Linked DNA regions of Homo sapiens. The protein of the gene in region 3 interacts with the protein of the main gene of each other region in a pairwise test. Each region holds a gene or a part of one and is shown on either strand. Other genes may lie near its edges.

Region 1 (7,034 bases), on a different chromosome or scaffold from region 3:
CCTCAGGTGATCCGCCTGCCTCGGCCTCCCAAAGTGCTGGGATTACAGGCGTGAGCCACCATGCCTGGCCGAGCCACGTAGGTTTTTTTTTTTGAGACGGAGTCTCGCTCTGTCAGCCAAGCTGGAGTGCAGTGGCATGATCTCTGCTCACTGCAAGCTCCACCTCTTGGGTTCACGCCATTCTCCTGCCTTAGCCTCCCGAGTAGCTGGGACTACAGGTGCCCGCCACCATGCCTGGCTAATTTGTTGTATTTTTAGCAGAGACGGGGTTTCACTGTGTTAGTCAGGATGGTCTCAATCTCCTGACCTCGTGATCCACCTGCCTTGGCCTCCCAAAGTGCTGGGATTATAGGTGTGAGCCACCGCGCCTGGCCAACCACGTAGGTTTTAAGCAAGGGAGGGATGTGGCTGGAAAAAATGTGCAGGGGAGGGTGGCTCCGCTTCTGAGATCCAGAATCATGTCCAGGCATTCATTTGCAATATTGCCAGCGCATTGCACAGGAGAGAAGCTGAGGCCCAGGTCCCACATAATGTGTAGGGAAGTCCTCAGTGATGGGTTGGGAGGATCTCCGTGAGAATAGGAGTGGCCTAGAGTGAGGGCAAGAATCATCTCCTAAATTGGTTCAGGCTTCTGGGGCTGTGGGCCCTGCCTGGGTGAACCCAGTGTTGGCCCAGGGCTCTGCTGGGACGAGGGTTGTGGGGGCTGGGCCATCCCTCCGCACCACCCGAAATCCAGACATGCTTAAGCTCCTTTGAGGGCGTGGACCATGTGGGTTTCATTTCTGTGTCCTTCATCTTCCCCAGAGCCAAGTAGAACTCCGCAGGCCTCTGAAGACTCTCAGAAAATATATGTGTTACCAAAACACAGATGTTAATTAGGGACAGAGATGGGGGTGGAAGAAAACCTGCAGGATCCTGAAGGTTTTTTACAGTTTTCACACTGTTTTCAACATTGATTCATTCAACAAACATTTACGGAGCATCTTCGAAATTTGGGGAACTGTGTAGGGAGTTGGGGGCACAGAGTAGCTAGAATGTGACCCCAGCCTTCTTGGAACACTTCTGGGGTGACCGAAATAAACGGCTGAGACAAGTTGCTTTTGTCTCATTTGGTCTTGGAAAAAGCCTCTGTTGGGGGCTGGGTACCATGGTGTTTTCCTCGCCCTGTTGCAGTGTCCTGAACCGGACCGGGAGACAGAGGTTTCGAGAGGTGAAACACCTTGCTAAGGTCGCACTCTGAGGCAGTGGCAGAAAAGGGGAGCTAGGGAGGCAGCCCAGGGGAGAAGGAAGTGGCCTGGTCAGAGTGGCAAAAAGGGAGCTGGTGCCCAGACATAGTCACCTTGCCTCTCCCCGTCCACCCAGCCCTGGGGCACCAGACCCCTTCCAAGGTCCTCAAGCAACTCTTTCCTGCCCAGGGTTCACAGTCCCTGGCCCCTGCCTGGAAAAGTGTTGGGGGCAGGAGGAGGGGGCTGTGCTTACCTGGCTCCCTCATATCTGCGAGGCCTGCCCTTTACCAAGCTGGGACTCCACCAGCTTGGGAGGTGGTATTAGTGCTTTTCCTGATTTGCACATGGGACAATGAATGCTGGAAGGACTGCTGATCCCCCCAACCCCATGGTCACATGGGAATTCAGCCCTCAGAGGCGGCGTGGCCTGCTCTTGCCTCTGCCCACCCATCTCCGGCAGTCAGGGCTGCAGTTTTCAGCCATAGAAGGGCAAGGCTGCATGCGGATGCACCCAGGAGGCTGCCCGGCGGGAAGACTGAGCTGTCTCTGCTGGTTTCAGCGGCCTGGAGTGGGGAGGGAGGAGGGGGATAAATAAAGCCTGCAGGCCAGCCAGCTGTCCCGTGCTGGGGCCCCCAGACAGGCCCTGCCACCTCTCACCTTTCCTAGTTTAGAAAATCCCTCACTGCTTCCCCAATGGAGGCTGCCCCAGGAGTGGCCCAGTGGGGCCAACCAGCTGTTCTATGCCAGCAGCTCCGGAGTATGTACATTTCCACTCTGGTTCAAACTTGTTCTTCTATTCACGGCCCCATTAAGAAAAACATTCATCTGCAGGCTGGACCGGGTTGGGATGCAGCAAGTTGGTGTGGCTACTCCGAGTGTGTGACACACCTGCAGGGGCCTGTGAGCAGTGGGAGGGCCAGACATGTGGATTCCCAGGGCTGGTGGCTTCCTTTCTCCAGGCCTCAGTGTCCTCATCTATAAAATGAGATCAATTCTTGCCAAACAGAGTTGCTGTGAAAAGAAAGTAAATGAGACAGAGGAGCCCAGCACTGCGCCCTGGGGGAGGTCACATGCGGGTCTTAGTTATGTCTTTGCCACGGACTCCAGGGGTGGCTTCCTGCAGAGAGGCAAAGGATCTTAAGCTTGAAAGCCTGGGCTTGAGCCTCACCCCTTCCCAGTGATTTCCTAGCCTCTGCTTGGATGCCTCCAGGGCCCGTGATCTCATGCCCTGCCCTGCCCTGGCAGCTCCAGCTCTAGCAGCGAATGTTTGCTGCCTCAGTTTCCCCCTTAGTAATCCACAGACTCCCCCCCAGCAACCCTGCTGAGGTTGATGCTGGCTGGGACAAGGTCTTCTCTGTTCAGCTCCTTTCTGACTCTGACCCCGCCCCTATTTCCCAGTCACCTCCCCTCTTGACCAACCCTCCTCCCTTTGCCTCTTGCAGAGATTTTGATTCGCTTTCCAAGGACAATGTCTTCGAGAATAACCGTTTGGTAAGTTCCCGGACAGGTGGAAGCCCAAGAGGCTCTGTGTATGTGTGTGTGTGTGTGTGTGTGTTTGGTGGGGAGGGCAGGGGTCTTGCACGGTGGCTGCCCTTGTACACCGGCCCTGGCTGCACCTTTCCCCACCCTCTGCTTCCCACCAGCCTCCTCATGCATGGAGCACCAGGCTTCCCCTTTCTCCAGGCCATCCTGTGGTGCTTGGGTGGGATTAATACTGAGGGGAGCCCACAGTCACCCCATCCCACTGAAGGGAGCTGGGCCTAGGCTGAGGGGTCGCCCCCTAACGCCTCCTCCTCTTCCTGCTTCGGCTGCTCCCGCCCTTGTACCTGTCACCACCCCAGGCCTTTGAAGTGGCTGAGAAGGAGCTGGGGATCCCCGCTCTCCTGGACCCCAATGACATGGTCTCCATGAGCGTCCCTGACTGCCTCAGCATCATGACCTATGTGTCCCAGTATTACAACCACTTCTGCAGTCCTGGCCAAGGTGAGAGGGGGACTCAGCGTTTCACGGAGGCTGGCCCAGGGGGTGGCCCTGGGGATGTCTGATGCTTGCTACTGGTTTTCTGAGTTGTAAACAGGCTGCTGAGGAGTGTGTCATTCATTTACTTATTCATTAATTCACTCATTGAAATATTTCTTTTTTTTTTTGAGACAGAGTTTCGCTCTTTTTTTTTTTGAGATGGAGTCTTGCCCTGTCACCCAGGCTGGATTGCGATGGCACGATCTCGGCTCACTGCAACCTCCGCCTCCTGGGTTTAACCTCCTGCCTCAGACTCCCAAGTAGCTGGGATTACAGGCACCCGGCACCACGCCCGGCTAATTTTTTGTGTCTTTAGTAGAGACAGGGTTTCACTATGTTGGCCAGGCTGGTCTCAAACTCTTGACCTCGTGATCTGCCCGCCTTGGCCTCCCCAAGTGCTGGGATTACAGGCGTGAGCCACTGTGCCCAGTCCCACTTTTTTTTTTTTTTTGAGACGGAGTTTCACTCTTGTTGCACAGGCTAGAGTGCAATGGCACGATCTTGTCTCACTGCAACCTCCGCTTCCTGAGTTTAAGCAATTCTCCTGTCTCAGCCTCCTGAGTAGCTGGGATTACAGGCACCCACCACTACACCTGGCTAATTTTTGGTATTTTTAGTAGAGATGAGGTTTCACCATGTTGGCCAGGCTGGTCTTGAACTCCTGACCTCAGGTGATCTGCCCGCCTCAGCCTCCAAAAGTGCTGGGACTACAGACGTGAGCCACTGGTGCCCGGCCTGACATATATCTTGAGTAAAAGAGCCTGTGCTGGGCTCTGGGGATGCAGCTGTGAATGTAATCACTGCTGAAGTCCCGTGGGGGAGATAGACACCAAACACACCCACCAGAAAATGAACACAATCATATCAGAGGAGACACAGCAGGTTGCGTTCATCCGCTGCATGGAGTCCACCTCCCCGGCACCCACCCTCACTTCCTGTTTGCAGACACTTCCTTGGGTTTTTCCTCCAGCAGGGAAGTGGCTCTGTCTGGTGAGGCTGCTGTGCTGTCTTCCACAGAAGTGACTGAGAGCTGAGAGGCTGGGGAACTGGGGAACCAGAGTTGCAGGGGCTACAAAGTGACTCGGTTCTGAGTGAGGTCACTGGGCATTCCCATGCAAGGACCTCCCTTGCAGGTAGCTGGGCCTCCCCTTCTGCAGAGATGAGATAGGCCTAGAGAGGGGAAGCAAGGAGCTCAAGATCACACAGCAGACAAACTGAACAGCTGGGTTGAGAATCCAGGTGTCCTGAATCCAACGCTGGATTCCTGCTGTCCCTGGGTCTGAGTAGAGCCCATTTCAGCCCCTCCCTCCTGCCTCTGCTGTCGGTCTAGACAGTTCTGGCCCAACTCTTTTTTTTTTTTTTTTGATACAGAGTTTTGCTCTTGTTGCCTAGGCTGGAGTGCGATGGCGCGATCTCGGCTTACTGCAACCTCTGCCCTCGGGGTTCAAGTGATTCTCCTGCTTCAGCCTCCTGAGTAGCTGGGATTACAGGCATGCACCAACATGTCCGGCTAATTTTTGTATTTTTAGTAGAGATGGGGTTTCGCCACTTTGGCCAGGCTGGTCTCAAACTCCTGACCTCAGGCGATCCACCTGCCTCGGCCTCCCAAAGTGGTAGGATTACAGGCATGAGCCACTGCGCCCGGCCCTGGCCCAACTCTTTAAAGTGTTTTATGAAGTCAGAGGTTTCTTTTCTTTTCTTTCTTTTTTTTTTTTGAAATGGAGTTTCACTCTTCTTGCCCAGGCTGGAGTGCAATGGCGCGGTCTCAGCTCACTGCAACCTCTACCTCCCGGGTTCAAGCGATTCTCCTGTTTTAGCCTCCCAAGTAGCTGGGATTACAGGCACCCGCCACCACACCCGGCTAATTTTTGTAGTTTTAGTAGAGACGGGGTTTCACCATGTTGGCCAGGCTGGTCTCGAATTCCTGACCTCAGGTGATCCACCCACCTCAGCCTCCCAAAGTGCTGGGATTACAGGCATGAGCCACTGCACCCAGCCATCTTTTCTTTCATTATATATATATATGTATATATATACATGCATATACATATATATGTACATATATTATGTGTATATATGCGTGCGCGCACACACACACACACGCACATATATGTGTATTTTTTTTGAGACAGGGTTTTACTCTGTTGTGTTGCCTAGGCTGGAGTGCAGTGGCATGATCACAGCTCAATGCGTCCTCAACCTTCCTGGGCTGCGGTGATCCTCCTATCTCAGCCTACTGAGAAGCTGGGACTACTGGTGCATGCAACCACACCCAGCTAACTTTTATATTTTTTGTAGAGGTGGAGTATCACCATGTTACCCAGGTTGGTCTTGAACTCCTAAGCTCAAGGGATCTACCCTTCTCGGCCTCCCAAAGTGCTGGGATTACAGGCATGAGCCACTATGCCCAGCCATAAATAAATAACTTTAGGAAAAAAAGAAAAAATAGCCGGGTGAAGTGGCTCATGCCTGTAATCCCAGCACTTTGGGAGGCCGAGGCAGGTGGATTGCTGTTGAGACCAGACTGGGCAACATAGCAAGAACCTGTCTCTACCAAAATAAAAATAAAAAAATTAACCAGGCATAGTGGTGGCACACCTGTAGTCCTAGCTACATGGGAGGTTGAGATGGGAGGTTTGCTTGAGGCCAGGAGTTTGAGGCTGCGGTGAGCTATGATCACGCCAGTGCACTGCAGCCTGGGCAACAGAGCGAGACCCCATCCCTAAACAGAAAAAATAAACAAGAAAATTTAGAACATGGCAAAAGCAGAAAAATTAAAATAATGTCTTATACCCCTTCCCCCTGATGTAACACTAGGGATTAAAATAATTGAACAAATAACATTATGTATATTTTAATAGAAAACAAAATGAAAGTATTTCCAGACCCCAGAGGCTCTGGTGAGAGGCAGTCTAAGGTTGGGGTTAAGAGCATGGACTCAAAATTTTCACTCTGCCATTTCCTCTTTGGGTGACCATGGGTCAGTTATTTAACCACTCTGCCTCAGTTTCCCTTTTGCAGTGAGGATAGGAATAACACCCATCTCACAGGGTTGACTTGAGGAGTAAATGAGGAAATGTATAAACCAGTGTTTGGCACCTATTTAGATTAGTATTCTTTTTTTTTTTTTTTTTTGAGACAGAGTCTCGCTGTGTCATCCAGGCTGGAGCTCAGTGGCACAACCTTGGCAGACTGCAGCCTCTGCCTCCCATGTTCAAGCGATTCTCATGCCTCAGTCTCCCAAGTAGCTGGGATTACAGGTGCGCACCACCACGCCTGGCTTAATTTTTGTATTTTTAGTAGAGATAGGGTTTCACTATGATGGCCGGTCTGGTCTGGGATTTCTGACCTCAAGTGATCCACCCACCTTGGCCTCCCAAAGTGCTGGGATTACAGGTGTGAGCCACTGCGCCCAGCCAAGATTAGTATTCTTACTACTTCTTATTTCACTGATTAGCGTTTAGCTGGATTCCTTAGAATCGCAATTCAGCCTTAGCCTGCGGCCTTCCTTGTGGCCAAACCTGAATCTCTCTCTACTGAGCTCATCTCTGGGACTCTGCGGGGTGGGTGGGGTGTGGGCAGCTGTTGGTGGTACGCAGCTCATTCGTTGGCCCTCTCTGGGCAGCCTGGTGGGCAGGGGCAGCCCTGGTGGGCACAGCTTACCGTGCTGAGTGTGGGCATGGGCACTCCCTCGCCCTGCAGGGATTCTCATTGATAAAGGTACAGTTTGTGGCAGACAGTCCTTTGTTATGCTGCCTGTATTTTCAGCCTCGCAATGTATTTTCATAC
Region 2 (7,034 bases), on a different chromosome or scaffold from region 3:
GAGGCCAGGAGTTCAAGACCAGCCTGGGCAACATAATGAGTCCCTGTCTCTACAAAAAAAATTTTTTTTTAAACACAGAGTTTCACTCTGTTGCTTAGGCTGGAATGCAGTGGTGCGATCTCGGCTTACTGCAACCTCTGCCACCCGGGTTCAAGCGATTCTCCTGCCTCAGCCTCCCGAGTAGCTGGGATTACAGGTGCCCACCACCATAACCAGCAAATTTTTGTATTTTTTAGTAGAGATGGTGTTTTACCATGTTGGCCAGGCTGGTCTAGAACTCATGACCTCAAGCGATCTACCCACCTCGGCCTCCCAAAGTGCTGGGATTACAGGGGTGAGCAACCGTGCCCAGCCCAGATTTTTTTTTTTTTTTTTTTTTTAGATGGAGTTTTGCTCTGTTGCCAGGCTGGAGTGCAGTGGTGTGATCTCGGCTCACTGTAACCTCTGCCTCCCAGGTTCTAGCAATTCTCCTGCCTCAGCTTCCTGAGTAGCTGAGATTACTGGAATGTGCCACCACATCCGGCTAATTTTTGTATTTTTAGTAGAGACAGGGTTTCACCATGTTGGCCAGGCTGGTCTTGAACTCCTGACCTCGGGTGATCTGCCCTCCTCGGCCTCCCAAAGGACTGGGATTACAGTCATGAGGCACCACGCCTGGCTCAGAGTTTTGCTCTTGTTGCCCAGGCTGAAGTGCAATGGTGCAATCTCCGCTCACTGCAACCTCTGCCTCCCAGGTTTAAGCAATTCTCCTGCCTCAGCCTCCCTAGTAGCTGGAATTACAGGCATGCACCACCATGCCCAGCTAATTTTGTATTTTTAGTAGACATGGGGTTTCACCATGTTGTTCAGGCCAGTCTTGAACTCCTGAATGGAGATGATCTGCCCACCTTGGCCTCCAAAAGTGCTGGGATTACAGGCGTGAGCCACCACACCCGGCCCAAATCTTATATGGTTCTTGAGGGAGCCTAGAATTCAGAATTCTCTAAAATGAGTGTGAACAAAAGATGGCTTTTCCTGTGCTTAGGGTCCATGTTATAATGTATAGAAGGGGCCAAGAGTAATGTATCCTGTATACCGACATTTAGCCACTTTTTTATTTTGAGACAGAGTCTTGCTCTTGTCACACAGGCTGGAGTGCAATGGCACGATCTCAGCTCACTGCAACCTCTGCCTCCCAGGTTCAAGTGATTCTCCTGCCTCAGCCTCCTGAGTAGCTGGGATTACAGGCGCCCACCACCATGCCTGGCTATTTTTTGTATTTTTAGTAGAGACAAGGTTTCGCCATGTTGGCCAGGCTGGTCTCGATCTCCTGACCTTGTAATCTGCCCACCTTGGCTTCCCAAAGTGCTGGGATTACAGGCATGAGCCACGGCTTCCGGGTCCACTTTTTCTTATAACAGCAAAATGTAGGGGGGAGCCAAGGGACTTTTCTCTTCCTTGAAGACTTGAAGATGTTTTTAAGATTTTTTTTTTTTTTTTTTTGAGATGGAGTCTCGCTCTGTCACCCAGGCTGGAGTGCAGTGGCTTGATCTCGGCTCACTGCAAGCTGCGCCTCCCGGGTTCATGCCAGTCTCCTGCCTACTCCCAAGTAGCTGGGACTACAGGTGCCCGCCACCATGCCCGGCTAATTTTTTTGTATTTTTAGTAGAGACCATGTTAGCCAGGATGGTCTTGATCTCCTGACCTCGTGATCCGCCCGCCTCGACCTTCCAAAGTGCTGGGATTACAGGCGTGAGCCACTGCGCCCGGCCTAGATGTTTTTTTAAGATTAATTCTTAATTCAGATCTCTGGCGCTATAGAAGGTAGGGATTCCTAGTGTTATCAGGAGGAAATTTTGGTAGATTCTTCTATTTGTTGCTGAAAAATTTCTTCTTGATTCAAATCAAGTTATTCCACTAGTAGATCTCCACGATTTCCTTAGTATGAGTAGATATGCTCTATTTTGTTTCTCTGAGATTTTTCTCTTCGTTACTCACAGTGAATCATCCTCTACAATTTCATCTAACCAGAGTCAGGAGTCTGGTTATCAGAGCGGCCCAATTCAGTCGACAACCTATACCTCCCAAAATAATGCTCAGGGCCCTCTTTATGAACAGAGATCCACACAGACTCGGCGGTACCCCAGCTCCATCTCTTCATCACCCCAAAAGGACCTGACTCAGGCAAAGGTAGTGGCTTCATGAACCCTTGGGAATTGGTTAGGAGAATAGTGGGCAAAAATTCCTTAAATATTAGTGTTTTACTTTTCAGCAAGTGGTGCTAAGAAACTTTGGAAGTAGTGATTGAGAATTTGAAAAAGGCACACATCTGTGGCTAGTGAATTAAAAGTTCTTATCAGCAAACCCGGAGACTGAAGAGCCAGGAAACCATTCTCTTTGTACTAAAAATTCATTGCCTCTAGTAGAATCAGTCTCAAGTGCCTGTCCTGTCTTCTGGGAAGATGTGATTGCCAGATTTCTGGGTGCGTGTCAGTAGACCTCACCTTGCTAAGTCCTGGCATGGTGAGGGAGACAGCATGTGCCAGAGGTGATGTGGAGTGAGTGTCAGATGCAGCCAGCGGAATAGGTGGTGTGGCTGAACTGTTGTACTTACCCTTCCCCAAAAATCACTGGATGTGGACTTTGGGCCTTTCCTCTATCTGTTTTAGGTTTGGGGTGTCTTCAACAATTTGTAGGGTTTCCTTCTTTTGCTTTTGGTCACACAGTGTTGGTATATCTCAGTTTTGTTGTTTAATTTTTGTTCCTATTTTGGTTTTTTGGATAGTCTACATTGTATTAATATTAATCCTTTTGGTTAATTTACAGAGTTTCTCCTAAAGATTTGTTGACCAAAATAAAGCTGCATCAGTGCTAACTTTCCTCATTCACATGAGTTTGTCTGTTTCTTGCTCTTCTGTTTTTTTTTTTTTTACCAGAATGGCTTCAGTTCTGTGCAGGCCACGCAGTTACAGACCACACAATCTGTTGAAGGTGAGTGTTCTTCAGGCTTTTCCCCTCCTAAGTTTCTGGTTTTCTATCTTAAAATGGTGATAATCCATTAGTTCCCTTCACTGGACAATTGAGACCCATGCTGTGTAATTCTCAGCATTAAAGAAAAAAGATTCTACCTAATATAGTCCATTGTTAAATAACTCATCCTTTTGTCTTTGGAACTGCCTTGGACTGTGGTCACCTCTCTATAGACATTCCCTTTTTTCTGATGAGAGGAATTCCTTTCTTCTAAATTTCTAGGTGCTACAGGCTCTGCAGTGAAATCTGATTCACCTTCCACTTCTAGCATCCCCCCTCTCAATGAAACGGTATCTGCAGCTTCCTTACTGACGACAACCAATCAGCATTCATCCTCCTTGGGTGGCTTGAGCCACAGTGAGGAGATTCCAAATACTACCACCACACAACACAGCAGGTGATTTGGGGTGAGGATGGAGGTTGGGGTTGGTGAATAGCAATAACAGAGCTCTCTGGTCCTTATTACTCCCTTGACCTGGCAGAGACCACATTAGCCCTGCTTTTGTCGTAAGTGGGTGACCTAAGAACTGTGGGAAGTGAAGACAGAGGAGGCTTGTTTTAATTTTCCCCTTTCAACATCCACTTTTGCTTTAACTGCTCTCTACCCCTGGCTGGCCATTGTGCTTAACATATGATCTCAGACCTCCTTGGTGTCCCATATTATGTCTTATTTCCTTGTTATGTTCTTGACTGAAGCTCCAGGTCACGTAACTATAGCACTATGGCTGATGGCAGCCTCTTTTTTTCTGACAGCACGTTATCTACGCAGCAGAATACCCTTTCATCATCAACATCTTCTGGGCGCACTTCGACATCCACTCTTTTGGTAAGTGTGATGCTGAGAGGGATGTGTGGTTTTCTTACACTTAGAACTGTCCAACTGTAAGATTGTCCCAAGAGAGAATTATTGAAAATTTCTTCATGAGGTGGCAAAATAATTGATTTGAGGTTGCAGGAAAAGGAGTAAAGGGATGTTAGGAAGCCAAGAGAGGCAGAAGAATCCCTAAACATTGAGCTCTGGGTCATTCCTAAAAGCCCTGAAAGTGACTTTCTGATTTTTTTCCCCTACTGAATATATAGTTGGGCTTTGTATGCTTTAATAAATTCTGGAAGAACATACCTTTCCAACTGGTAGAGCTGTTCTCTTTCCTTGGTCTTGGGTATGCCCAAGTTCTGAAAAGAATCAGTGCAAGGCTGGACATTTTTGTGAAAGTAGATGCCAGGTGAGAGCTTTTGGTCCAAGAGTCAATTTTATTGTTTTGATTTGTAACAACTATTAATAGAATTAAGCTGAGCCTGTAAAGGGAAGGACCCATTTTGGACAAAAGTATCAGATTTGCCGGAAGCCTGGGGAGGTATGAGGGCTAAGGCTCCTTTAGGAGTCTCTATTCAAATACACAGTTTCAGATTTAAAGTCAGAATTGTGGACAGGTGCAGTGGCTCACCTCTGTAATCCCAACACTTTGGGAGGCCAAGGCAGGAGGATTGCTTGAGCCCAGGAGTTTGAGACCAACCTGAGCAATATAGTGAGACCTCATCTCCATAAAAATTTTTTGAAGATTGGCCAAGCATGGTGGTACATTCGTAGAGTCCTAGCTACTCGGGAGGCTGAAGTGGAAGGACTGTTTGAGCCCAGGAGGCCAGGGTTGCAGTGAGCCAAGATTGCACCACTGCACCCCAGCCTGGGCAACAGGATGGGACCCTGTCTCAAAAAAAATGTAAAATCAGAATTTTTGCTTTTTCCTAGTCCACAAACTGGTCTCAACTAGTAAAGAAAAGTTGGGGAGAGAAAGCTGTGATATATTTTTTACATCTCAACTCTCTCTGTTCCTTTATCAGCCAGTGTTAGTCTCTGGGGAATCTGTCTCCATTTGCTTTACTGTCTTTCTGAACAGGATGATGATGTGCAGTGAGTCTGTTACCATTCTTGCCAGATGAGTCTTGAGGAATATGTAGCTGGAGATTATTTCTAACTACTTTAGCAGGGTGTACTTTGGTACCTTGCCTACTTGGCCTCTTTAATTAGGAAGTTGACATCATAATATATTCAGCAGGAGGGATTGTCTTATTTTTCCTGACCTATGATGCTGATCTCTTTTCTTCTTCTCTCTTCCACTGCTCCCCCTTTTGAAGCACACAAGTGTGGAGAGTGAGGCGAATCTCCATTCTTCCTCCAGCACTTTTTCCACCACATCCAGCACAGTCTCTGCACCTCCCCCAGTGGTCAGTGTCTCCTCCAGTCTCAATAGTGGCAGTAGCCTGGGCCTCAGCCTAGGCAGCAACTCCACTGTCACAGCCTCGACTCGAAGCTCAGTTGCTACGACTTCAGGTAGCCTTGCATAAGCAGATGGCATTCCTCTGGGATGGAGGAGGTAAGTAATTGTGTGATGGGATAAAAATGTAATTTCTCTTTTAGGAAAAGCTCCTCCCAACCTCCCTCCTGGGGTCCCGCCGTTGTTGCCTAATCCGTATATTATGGCTCCAGGGCTGTTACATGCCTACCCGGTAAGTGGGACTAAAGGATCTTCTTCAAAAGGTGAGGATGTTGTGGCTACTCTTTTTATAGCTCTGGCTTCAGATGGACCCCTGTGAATACCAAAACTTGCACATACTCAAGCCCTGCAGTTGGCTCTGTGGAATCCATGTATATGAGTTTTGCATTCTGTAAATGTGGCCGTATTTTTGATCTGTGTGTCTGGTTGGAAAAAATTCATATATAAACAGCGTGCAGTTCAAACCTGTGTTAAGGGTCAACTGTAATTAAAATATAAAATAAATGAGGGATTGCCACATGTAATCAAACTGGTTTTTAATCTTTGCAGTTTTGGAAAAAATACTAAACTGAGGCCAACCCATCTATTGTGTATCTGCTTTGGTTTATGGTGCACACATGTATGCATGTGTGTGTGTGCGTACAATGTGTATGTATATGTGTGATGAGAATATCTGCCCTGTTTGAAACACAGCTTCTGGGCCTCAGAAGCCAAAGGCCAGAATGTTCATCTGGAATCCTTTTTGGTTTCTTAGATAATTATGACTATTATTTTATTTTTTGAGGCAGATCTTGCTCTTTTACCCAGGTTGGAGTACAGTGGAACGATCATAGCTAGCTCACTGCAGCCTTGAACTCCTGGGCTCAAGCAATCCTCTCACCTCAGACTCCCCAAGTAGCTAGGACTACAGGTGTGCATCCCCATGCCTGGCTAAGTTTTAAAAATTTTTTTAGAGACAGGGTCTTCCTATGTTGCCTAGGCTGGTCTCAAAATCCCAGGTTCAGACAGTCCTCCTGCCTCAGCCTCTCAAATAACTGGGGTTATATATAGGCCTGAGCCACTACTCCTGGCCCCAAGAATTATTTTCTCTGATTTGATTAAATCCCTAACTCTGAGTGTGTTTGCTGGTCTGGCCTGGTTAGAGGAAAGTTTCCTGACTCAATCTGGGACTTTGAGAATAAGTGGCTGACATTAGTAGCTTTTTGCCCTAGTGTATCTTCTGTGACCTTCAAGTATTTGGTACCTATTAAGATGAAGGATATATGGAAACGTTTTAGAAGATACCTGTTCCTGCCCTCATAGACAAAGTCTAGATAAATTTCATACCGATGACACATCCAAATAACACAGTTACACATTTTTAATTTGTGGTCACTACCTTAAAACCCTGACATTGGAGAAAAGTGAAGTATTCTTTCCAGAGGAGATTATTTTTAAGCCAGATTTTGAAGAGTATAAGAGACAGAGACTTGTAGAATAGAGAGTAAAACTGGTTGTTCGTGTATGTTTTGTGTCTACTCTATTGGTATCAAGAAGCCAGCCTACTAGAATCAGTAGTATTTAGCTCAAGGAAAGCTTCAAGACCTTTCATGAATCATTTAATCTCTGTGTACTTTACTGCTTTTTCCTTAAATAAAATTGAAGGAAATAATCCGTGTCCTGTTCTAACCCAGAATGAGGATGAATGTTCTGTTGAATTAGCTTGTCTCTTGGCTCCTTGTTTTGCTAACATCATGACCAGTTCCTGTTATT
Region 3 (7,034 bases):
GGGACACCACCACAGCCAGGCCTACGCCCAGCAGCACCACTGAGGTGTCAGAAGGCAAAGCCCACTGCTCTACTTCATGGTCACCCCTCCTGTCCAGGAAGATCAGTGGCCCCACGGTGACATCTGCTTCTTCTGTCACTGTGAAAGGAGAACACACAACCAAGGGTTATCTTAGTCCCTAACCGGGAACTGGGTTGGAGGTTTTATTCTGCCTCAGTGGGCTAAACTAATATGTTGTCTTTTTTGTGTGGGCTAATAAACAGTTTCTAGACAAAAAAAACACAGCTTTCTCGGCCAGGTGTGATGGCTAATGCCTGTAATCCCAGCACTTTGGGAGGCTGAGGCAGGCAGATCACCTGAGGTCAGGTGTTTGAGACCAGCCTGGCCAACACGGCAAGACCCGTCTCTACTGAAAATAAAAAAGTTAACTGGGCATGGTGGCACATGCCTGTAGTCTCAGCTACTTGGGAGGCTGAGGCAGGAGAATAGCTTGAACCTGGGAGGTAGAGGTTTCAGTGAGCAGAGATCGTGCCATTGCTCTCCAGCCTGGAGGACAGAGCTAGACACCATCTTGGTGCAGGGGAGGGGGAAGAAAAAAGAAAAAGACAGCTTTCTCATACGGAGAAAGCAGGTCACCCAAGAGGGATTCCCTAGTACATCATCTTTTTTGTAGAGACAGGGTCTTGCTATGTTGCCCAGGCTGGTCGAGAACTCATGGGGCTCAAGCGATTTCCCTGGCCTCAGCCTCCCCAAGTGCTAGGATTATAGGCACAACCCACTGTTCTGGCCAGATTATTATTTTTTTTTTGAGAGACAGTTTTACTCTTGTTGCCCAGGCTGGAGTACAATGGTGCAATCTCGGCTCACTGCAACCTCTGCCTCCCAGATTCAAGTGATTCTCCTGCCTCAGCCTCCCAAGTAGCTGGGATTACAGGCATGTACCACCACGCCCAGCTAATTTTTTATTTTTAGTAGAGATGGGGTTTCTCCATGTTGGTCAGGCTGGTCTCGAACTCCTGACCTCAGGTGACCTGCCCGCCTTGGCCTCCCGAAGTGCTGGGATTACAGGCCTGAGCCACTATGCCAAGCCAGATTATCTTAACAACTGCTATATTTCCCCTACATGCCTAATTATGTCTCAGTAGAAGCCTAGGATGACAGCAGATCTCCCTGGCTGCCACCGAGGTGGAAGGCTGAGAGCCCCTCCTGCTTAACCCCAAGATTTGTGTTAGGGAAAGGTAGCTGCAGGCCTAGGTACAAACAGTTTTAATGGAGGACAAGGGAAAATACCATCACCCTGAAATGACAGCAGGTACCCTCAACTGAGTAAGGGACAATGAACAGCCTCTTGGCCATTCTGTGACATACCATGCCTGCGGTTACGGGAAGCAGACCTGGACCACTGGCTCATGACATGAGGCTGCCTCCTGGAATGGCTTGGAGTGCCACAGTCACCTTTGTTACAGCATTGACAGATGTCAGCCGAGCCTTCCACTGGGAACCAGCTGAGATGAAAGAGAAGCAGCTTAGATTTTTGTTGCCTGCAGGAAGCAGTTTGCTGATAATATATTGGGGGAAATAGACAAGGGGTCGCCGATTCAGTTTCTACTCCAGTCACGGAGCACCTGTCCTCCTCACCTGTTGGAAGGCTTGCTGAAGGAACAGGCCTTGTTGAGTTCATCTGGGTCCTGCTCAGCTAGGGTGACCTTCAGGTGGCAGGTGATGTATATCTGCAAGGAATAACAGCTATTTCCAGGCCGAGTTCCAGGCTGTGCCTGGGAGTTTAACACACCAGTTCTCTTATAACCCTCAACCCTTTAAAGAGTGAGAAGGGGCCGGGTGCATTGGCACACACCTATAATCCCAGCACTTTGGGAGCCCAAGGCGGGTAGATCACCTGAGGTCAGGAGTTCGAGACCAACCTGGCCAACATGGTGAAACCCCATCGCTACTAAAAATACAAAGTTAGCTGGGCGTGGTGGTGGGTACCTGTAGTCCCAGCTACCTGGAAGGCTGAGGCAGGAGAATCACTGGAACCTGGGAGGCAGAAGTTGCAGTGAGCCGAGATCATGCCACTGCACCCCAGCCTGGCTGACAGAGTGAGACTGTCTCATAAAATAAACAGGGGGAAGGAAGAGCCTCATCTCTAAGATGGTGTAAAGGTTCACTTACCCAATGTTAGAGCAAGTAGCAACTAGTTTTAGACTGGAATCCACCACTTATTCCCCTGATCTTTTCCAAACTTACCCAATCATTGAGCATGCTTGACCCTGGGCTTCTGAGACAGGGCCTGTCACCCAGGCTGGAGTACAGTGGTATGATGATGCCTCACTATAGCCTTGACCTCCTGGGCTCAAGGGATCCTCCCACCTCAGCCTCATGAGCAGCTGGAATTACGGGTACAAGCCACTACACCTGGCTAATTTTGGATTTTTTGCAGAGATGAGGTTTTGCCATGTTGCCCAAGCTGGCCTCAAACTCCTGGGCTCAAGTGATCTGTCCGCCTCAGCCTCCCAAAGTACTGGGATTACAGGTGCCAGCTATCCGTGCCTGGCCAGTCCTGGGCTTAACTCAGCATTGCTAAACCCGCGCCCATCCCCAGGTGACCGAGGTGAGTGGTAGACACCTTAATAGCTAGCAGCTTAGCTGGGCTTCTGACGCTGCCACCTGCCACTTGACTAGTTGACAAGCTACTTTTCTTCAGGGATGTAGTCACTGTATTGCCAGCTAAGGCAAGACCAAGTTGTTTCTGGGACCTGAGGTCCTTGGGCACATAAAGAAGCCTTTTGGACTTGCTTCTGTGGAGTTTCCATTTCAGACTTAAGAGGTTTTTTTTTTTTTTTTTTTTGAGGTGGAGTCTTGCTGTTGCCTAGGCTGGAGTGCAATGGCACGATCTCAGCTCACTGCAACCTCTGCCTCCTAGGTTCAAGCAATTCTCCTGCCTCAGCCTCCCAAGTAGCTGGGATTACAGGCACTTGCCATAATGCCTCGCTAATTTTTTTGTATTTTTAGTAGAGACAGGGTTTCACCATCTTGGCCAGGCTGGTCTTGAACTCCTGACCTTGTGATCCACCTGCCTTGGCCTCCCAAAGTGCTGGGATTACAGGCGTGAGCCACTGCGCCCGGCCAGACTTGAGTTTGATGGCTCACTCTTTGGGCAAGCTTCCCTGGGCTTTTCTTCCTTGCACATACCTCTGCTATTAGTCAAGCCTACGTCAGTCTCCCTTCACCTGTAAGGGATATGACGACCAGAAGACTCACCAGGCTGATACCCTGACAGTCCTGGCCTCTGGGAAACGTTTACCCACCCTCGTTAGACAAGTACGAGGGAATGAACCCAATATGAGCTCCTGCTGGGAGCTGAAAGACCCCCCACCACCCAGGGAATAGTCAACTACCCTGTAAGCACTGCCCCGCTACCCTTTTTTTTTTTTTTTTTTTCTGAGACGGAGTCTGTCTCTAGTCCAGGCTGGAGTACACTGTAGCCACTACCTCCGAGGTTTAAGCGATTCTCTTGCCTCAGCCTCCCAAGTAGATGGGATTACGGGTACCCACCACCACACCAGGCTAGTTTTTGTATTTGTAGTAGAGATGGGGTTTCCCCATGTTGGCCAGGCTTGTCTTGAACTCCTGGCCTCAAGTGATCCACCTGCCTTGGCCTCACAAAGTGCTGGGATTATTGGCATGAGCCACCGTACCTGGCCAAGCCTTCTCATTTTAGACTGACATTCCATCCTGCTGCTGGGGCTAGGGGCCATTCTGACAGAGCCAGGGCTCAGTCTAGCCTTGGCCCGTCCCCAGGTCAGTTTCCCTTCATATTTCAGGCAGGGCTAAAATTCCTCCCTGCTCAACCTCGGGCAGAGCATGGCAATTCTGCCACCTTCCAGCAGAAGCCTCAGAGCCACAAGCCTCAGTCACCACCTAGTGGCCAAGTACACCAGCAGAGAAACTTGAAACCATGTAAATTCAGACTTTTAGAAACAAGCCAGTTTAGCAGTTGTCCAGCTGCCCATCTTAGCCACCTGCCCTGCAAGTAAGAAGCTTCCAAGGCCCTGTTGTCTATTCCACAAAGGAAATGTACTTTCATCCTTAGCTTTTTCCTAGTATGTTTTTCTGGTGCTAACTGGAGTCTAAGATCCCAGGGCAGTTCCCCTATAGCGGCCTTTTAGAAGCAGGGTCTAGGCTGGGCGTGGTGGCTCATGCCTGTAATCCCAGCACTTTGGGAGGCTGAGGTCAGTGGATCACCTGAGGTCAGGAGTTTGAGACCAGCCTGGCCAACATGGTGAAACCCCATCTCTACTAAAAAAAAAAAAAAAAATACAGAAATTAGCTGGGCATGGTGGCAGGTGCCTATAATCCCAGCTACTTGGGAGGCTGGAATGGAAGAATTGCTTGAACCTGGGAGATGGGAAGTTGCAGTGAGCTGAGATTACGCCATTGCACTCTAGCCTGGGCAACAAGAGTGACACTCCATTTCCCCCCAAAAAAAAACAAAAAAAAAAAAAAAAAGAGGGGAGTGTGATAGCTCATGCCTGTAATCCCAGCACTTGCTGAGGCAGGTGGATCACCTGAGGTCAGGAGTTTAAGACCAGCCTGACCAACATAGTGAAACCCCATCTCTACTAAATATTCAAAAATTAGCCAGGCGTGGTGATTGAGTGCCTATAATTCCAACTATTAGGGAGGCTGAGGCAGGAGAATGGCTTGAATAAGGAGGTGGAGGTTGCAGTGAACCGAGATCATGCCATTGCATTCCAGCCTGGGTGACAGAGCGAGACTCTGTCCAAAAAAAAAAAAAAAAAAAAAAAGTACACAGGGTCTTGCTCTGTTGAGGGCAATAGCACCATCATAGCTCACTGCAGCCTTAAACACCTGAACTCTGATCCTCCCACCTCGGCCTCCCAAGGTGCTGGGATTACAGATGTGAACCACCGTGCCCAGCCACCCTATTGCTCTGAAATAGGGTTGTTCCTTCTTTGTGCCATGGGACATAGTCTACTGAGGCATCATCAATCCTACCTTTGAAGGGGGGCCCTCCAAGGGCTCAGACTATCTTCCATTAAACAGCACTGTTCTCTGGTCTTAGTTACCCCTCAACCCCCAGAGATTGAGAAACCACCTCAGTCCATACCCATGCTGACCGCTACCACCTCTGTGAAAACTTCTCTCCATCTTCTTCCCAAATGGCCACACCTGAGGTCAATCTTGACTTCCTCCCACAACCAGGATCCTCTCCCCTAAGGAGCTATCGGTCACTGATCCGAGGGCCAGGACTCTTTTCCCAAATCTGCCCTCCTTTATCCCCAGCCCCACTGAAGCAGGGCCCACCACTGAGAGCTTCAGGCCATCTCATCAATATTAGATGCTTTTCCCTTTTGCTACCCTACTGATCTGTGTGTTGATCTTTCTCTTCCCACAAGGCAGCTGCTGGAGGAGGTGAAGTGGCATCGATGTCATCTTTGAAAAGTTTCTACTTTGTCCCTTAATGCCACCCTGACGTATGAGCCTCTGCTTCAGAGGTTTGCAAGCCTGGCTGCGTATTAGAGTCACCTAGGAGCTTAAGTGGCTTTTGATGCATTTCCAAGTAGAATAAGGTAGGTCAGTAGATGGAGGATAACAGTAAAATGCTAGCAGGCCGGGTACAGTGGCTCACGCCTGTAATCCCAGCACTTTGGGAGGCCAAGGCAGGTGGATCGTTTGAGGTCGGGTATTCAAGACCAGCCTGGCCAATATGGTGAAACCATCTCTACTAAAAATATAACAGGCACTCAGTAGTGGCGTATGCCTACAATCTCAGCTACTTGGGAGGCTAAGGCAGGAGAATCGCTTGAGCCTGGGAGGTGGAAGTTGCAGTGACCTAAGATTGGGCCACTGTACTCCAGCCTGGGTGACAGAGACCCTCTCAAAAAAAAAAAAAAAAAAAAAAAAAAAAAAAAAAAAAAAAAAAAAGGGGGCGGGGGGCGCGTGGTGGTTCATGCCTATAATCCCAGCACTTTGGGAAGCTGAGGCGGTTGGATAATGAGGTCAAGAGTTCAAGACCAGCCTGGCCAAAATGATGAATCCCTGTCTCTACTAAGAAATACAAGGATTAGCCGGGCATGGTGGCAGGCGCCTACAATCCCAGCTACTCAGGAGGCTGAGGCAGAATTGCTTGCACCCGGAGGCAGAGGTTGCAGTGAGCCAAGACCGCACCATTGCATTCCAGCTTGGGTGACAGAGTGAGACTGTCTCAAAAAAAAAAAAAAAATGCTGGTGGTAGAACCTAGATGGTGTGCACACTGAAGTTCATGGAGTTTTACAGCAAACACCTATGAAGATTTAGTTAATGTTACAAAATGTGACACCATGCCCTACCCCAATAGAGTGAAGGTATGAGACTCTCTACAATCAGTATTTTTACAACCTCTCCAGATGATTAGTATAGAGCCAGCACTGGAAACCCCTACTTTAATCACTTCCTAACCACCTATTCTAAGCTCACCGCCTCACCTCTCATCTCAGTGAGCTTGTTTAAAAGCTACTTGAGGCTGGGCATGGTGGCTCACGCCTGTAATTCCAGCACTTTGGGAGACCGAGGCAGGCGGATCACCTGAGGTCAGGAGTTTGGGACCAGCCTGGACAACATGGTAAAACCTTGTCTCTACTAGAAATACAAAAAAATTAGCCAGGCATGGTGGCGGGTACCTGTACTCCCAGCTACTTGGGAGACTGAGGCAGGAGAATCACTTGCACCTGGGAACCTGGAGTGGCTGGGACTACAGGTGCCCACCATCATGCCCAGCTAATTTTTTGTATTTTTAGTAGAGGGGGTTTCACCGTGTTAACCAGGATGGTCTCAATCTCCTGACCTCGTGATCTGCCCGCCTCAGCCTCCCAAAGTGCTGGGATTATGGGCACGAGCCACCGCACCAGGCAATTTACTTCTAACCACTTACCAGTACTTCCCGGCTAGATGTTGGTCCTTGCACCTGCACTTCCTACTGCATCCCTCCCCCACCTCAGCCATTAGGCAGTTCCCATCTTCATTCCTTCCT
Region 4 (4,102 bases), on a different chromosome or scaffold from region 3:
TGTGTTTACTTTAAAATACCATTTATACATATTGTATATATTGGATTCTGTACTATCTGGAGTTTCAGGCATTTACTAGGGGTCTCAGAACGTTTCCCCTGCGGATGAGAGAGGACTATTCTATTTGCTTTCATTAGTCATGTAAGATTATGACAGAGCTTATAAATGTACTTTTCTGAAATCCTCTGAGATCTTATGCCAAATTCTCTTTATATTAATTGTAAATATTTAAAACCACAAATATTATTAGGCTATGACCCTTTGGTAATTATTTAACTAGCCAATTTATCTAAGCTATGTGAAAGATTGTTAATCCACTTCTATTGAGAAACTAGTGATACTATCAAGTAATTTTTGTTTAAAAAAGTCTTATTTTAATGGCAAGCAGATAACTAGCAAAATGAGCTGTGATGCCACAGTTTGCTTTTCCAAAATAATTATGATCAGGGTCCCTGTGATATGCACAGGGAAGTGTGTAACACATCCCTTCTGGGTTAATGAATTCAAGGGAAGGCAACACCACTATTAGTAATAGCTTTTTATTCGGAGTCCTCATTTTCCAGATAGATCACATTAAACACAGCCATTAAACAATAGCGTTGAGATAAATCCATACAATGTATGCTGCTTTTGTTGTTGTCCTTGTTCACCAATCACTTGGTGCAGCTAAGAACTTTATGGAGTGATGGGCTGATAATGGAAATAGCCAACCTGCAAAACACTGGGGCCAGGAAAGTCAGACTTTAATCAGGTCTCATTCAATAATATTTAGAATCAACACATCTTGATAGCCAAAACTCTCATTCGAATTAGTGCTCTGATGAATGCTGTCTGTTGTCAAAAGAATATAATTAGACTATTATGACTGGGCATATATTATGCCAGACCTGTCTATCTGTTGACCTCAGTAACTTTTACTCTATTAGATAACAAACAGCTTTTAACCTGGTTCTAAAAAAGCATATGCTCTATTACTACATGACTTTTTTATGGTGCCATATTTTAAATTGAACAATATCTAGATCCTTTAAAGGGAAGTCATGTTTTACAAGATTTCAGCTAATTTTGGAAAACAAAACAAGTTAGTTTCTCAACCAGGAATTCAATTAACCTATGGAGTAGTGAGCCAATCTTTGTATATTGCCTGCAATAAAGTTAGAAATGTCAGGTTAAGAAATAGCATGAAAGAATTCTTTGAAATTGCATGATATGTCTCTTTAATGTTTACTTTGGTATACGTATAACTAACAGATTCTCACTACTTTTAACTCTGATGAAAAGGTTATTTTGTTGCTTTTTTTTTTTTTTTTTTTTTTTAGCTCATCTGCAAGCAATTTTTAGAAGTTTGGGTTTCTTACTGAAATTTCCATGAAGTGATTTTTTTTTCTGTGCTTAACTTCAGTTACTTAAAGACCTAAAAGACAAAGTGGTATCACATCACATATTTTGTATGTGTGGGCTTTTTTGAGGGGTTAGTACTTGAAAGATATGAATTGATATTTTTTTCACATTCTAAATTATGTTAAAACCCCTTCAAATCTCACTGTTTGCTCATGCATCACCTATTAGAGCAAGGTGCTCTCTAAAGGTGTGATTTTGGCATCTCATAGGCTTCCTTGAAAGCCAAGCACCAGAGGTCTGCAATAAAGGCAGTTGCCAGCTAAATGAATAAAAGCGAGATTTCCTCAATTCAACTATAAAAGCTTAGAGTCCTGACTGCTGAATTACCACCAACTTGTAAATAAATAATCACTACTAAATACAGATAATGTGTTAAACAGCTAACACTAGTAAATCACTGGTGACAGAGAGCCTAAAGGTAAATCCCTCACACATTGGCACAACCAATTATTACAACCTTATGGTGTTTTAATGTCCTCAGACACATATAATAAATTGAACAACTGGTTACTTAGCATTAAGAATGTTTATAAAATAAACCCTACTCTCTTTGCTGGTTTCATTTACATACTGCTTTAGATTTTACTAAGTGGATATCTGTCTAGTAAGAGAGAAGCAACACTTGGTAAGACTAAATGGAAATCAGTTTTCCATCAAATTTCAGCTATCAAGCTAAATCAACCTGTAGTCTCCTGGCAAAAATAACATCATATAACAGAGACAACACATTTCAGATACATAAATTGTCCAAAATATAGAGAGTCAATTAGGTTTCACATGTACAAGGTCCCTTCTTTTCTAATTTAAACATTTATGAGTAATAAAAACCAAGAGTAGAGCTTTGGAAAGGCTGTTACTAGGAACCAAAATATAGTTCTCAAGAGAATAAGGCTGATGGGAGTTGTCCACTCTTCCCTCTCAAAGCAGTTTTGCAAACGAGGTACAGTCTAAAATATTGATGGCATTTGGCGGAAATATTTTCAGTAGAAGTTTTTAAAGTTTAAAATTACAAAACTTAATTTAATTCAATGTTTGTTTTTGCTTTTGTTTTTGTTTTAAATATAAGAATTTTTATGACATTTTTGCTGTTTCTACACTGGCTTGGTGGCCAGAAGAGAAGGCACAAAATTATCCACCAGTTTGCAAATAATGCATTTTTCTGCTCCAGTGCTCAAACAGCCTTTATTTAACTCAGCACCACATTTTCTAAGGTATGGGCACAAAACTGTTTGTCATGAAGCTGTAAAATGCCAAAAATTTTAAATGCTGAAAGAAAATGTCAATCAAGGCATTTTCCCATCTGCTGCTACTTCTGCAAGTGCTAATTTTATTTTTCCCAATTCCTGAAATTTGAGGTTTCTTAGCCTCATATGGAAGTAAGTTTGAAACTCGCTAAATGTCACAAGGAAAGGTGTAACCAAATGAAGGAATAGAAGGTGTATTGTTCTCAAAGGACACCAACAAAAAGAGGCAGAAGAGCACTGAGATAAAGGAAAACATTTTGTTAAGACCCAGACCTCTTGAAAAACACTACACAATGCAAGTAACCACTGCTGGTACATACATGCATTAAAGCATTTTTCATGTTTTCAAAATATAATGGGAACACACATCTGAAGCACTTAAAATACTTTTGAGAACCAACTGATGGCATAATATCTACACAGGCAGAAGCTGTATGTTATTGAAAAAACATGAAGAAGTTTCAGATATTGGTACAAATGTCAATTCTTGTGATTTAGCATGACTTTAATAAAAGCTTCTACAAGGACTTGCACATAACCATGACTGATGGATGTAATTTTTGACCTTTCAGTTAGCTCCATCAGCTCACTCAAACACATTTTGAACAGATTATGTACTGTAGTACTTGGTAGACTATACATTAAACAAGAGACTTTGCTCTGAGGCACTGCTTCCCACACTCCATGGGGAAAAGGAAGCAGGAAAAAACAAAACTCATAGAGTTCGACAGCTACCAAGGCAACACTTGCCATTTACAATATAAGCCCAAATATTTTTGCAACACAACTATATATTAATTTAATAAAATACACAATATAGCTCTTACACACTCAACAATTTGGCTCATATGCACTGAATCTGCAATAAATCAATAAAATATGTCATTTGATGTAAACACATTGAATCTTCTTACATTTGCACATTTAAATGGTCATGTGACTTGCGTATGTCTAAGACATTTTCACTTTCCTGAGCTATTTTAGTGTCCACAAATGAATAAAACATATTAATCAAGTTAATTTTCTCTGAATCTTACCACTCAATGGTAACTATTTTTTAGAACTTTTCTATGTCAAATTTAAAACATATTCATCATTGTTTAAATCTTTGTTGGACACTAAAATGCTAAATAGGCATTTTAAATCTTTAAGTTTTCTTCTTCTTTAATGACGTGAATTAGTCTACGTGTGTGCAGGACAAAATGGACTGTATCTTTTTACATTTAACTTTTATATGACATGAGATGTCTTACAAATGACCAAAGGTTTTTTTTTTGTTTTTGTTTTCGACTAATGATATGGAATGTTCCTTGTGTTTATATGTGTGTCAGGTAACTTTATACAGAAATGTTTACCACAAATATGTGTTAATGTTTGGTGTAGCTTGGACTACTGCAAGGTCTTTTCAGGACTTTCAGTAGAAGCCTGTGATGACTGCTAGAAATCCACCACAGATC

What was found.
Region 1: the proteins of ZP3 (region 3) and MICALL1 interact in a two-hybrid assay, tested with the Homo sapiens proteins (one study listed by BioGRID and IntAct).
Region 2: the proteins of ZP3 (region 3) and UBAP2L interact in a two-hybrid assay, tested with the Homo sapiens proteins (one study listed by BioGRID and IntAct).
Region 4: the proteins of ZP3 (region 3) and PCDH17 interact in a two-hybrid assay, tested with the Homo sapiens proteins (one study listed by BioGRID and IntAct).

The regions. Positions count from the first base shown.
Region 1 is NC_000022.11:37,909,284-37,916,317, forward strand, and holds part of MICALL1 (MICAL-like protein 1), read left to right. Parts: intron 1-2,668; coding exon 2,669-2,717; intron 2,718-3,067; coding exon 3,068-3,209; intron 3,210-7,034. UniProt on the Homo sapiens protein: Lipid-binding protein with higher affinity for phosphatidic acid, a lipid enriched in recycling endosome membranes. On endosome membranes, acts as a downstream effector of Rab proteins recruiting cytosolic proteins to regulate membrane tubulation.
Region 2 is NC_000001.11:154,251,921-154,258,954, forward strand, and holds part of UBAP2L (ubiquitin-associated protein 2-like), read left to right. Parts: intron 1-1,979; coding exon 1,980-2,169; intron 2,170-2,915; coding exon 2,916-2,970; intron 2,971-3,231; coding exon 3,232-3,406; intron 3,407-3,762; coding exon 3,763-3,835; intron 3,836-5,142; coding exon 5,143-5,338; intron 5,339-5,425; coding exon 5,426-5,514; intron 5,515-7,034. UniProt on the Homo sapiens protein: Recruits the ubiquitination machinery to RNA polymerase II for polyubiquitination, removal and degradation, when the transcription-coupled nucleotide excision repair (TC-NER) machinery fails to resolve DNA damage.
Region 3 is NC_000007.14:76,434,946-76,441,979, reverse strand, and holds part of ZP3 (zona pellucida sperm-binding protein 3 isoform 1 precursor), read right to left. Parts: intron 1,731-7,034; coding exon 1,639-1,730; intron 1,506-1,638; coding exon 1,369-1,505; intron 139-1,368; coding exon 1-138. UniProt on the Homo sapiens protein: Component of the zona pellucida, an extracellular matrix surrounding oocytes which mediates sperm binding, induction of the acrosome reaction and prevents post-fertilization polyspermy.
Region 4 is NC_000013.11:57,725,733-57,729,834, reverse strand, and holds the end of PCDH17 (protocadherin-17 precursor), read right to left. Parts: 3' UTR 524-4,102; downstream 1-523. UniProt on the Homo sapiens protein: Potential calcium-dependent cell-adhesion protein.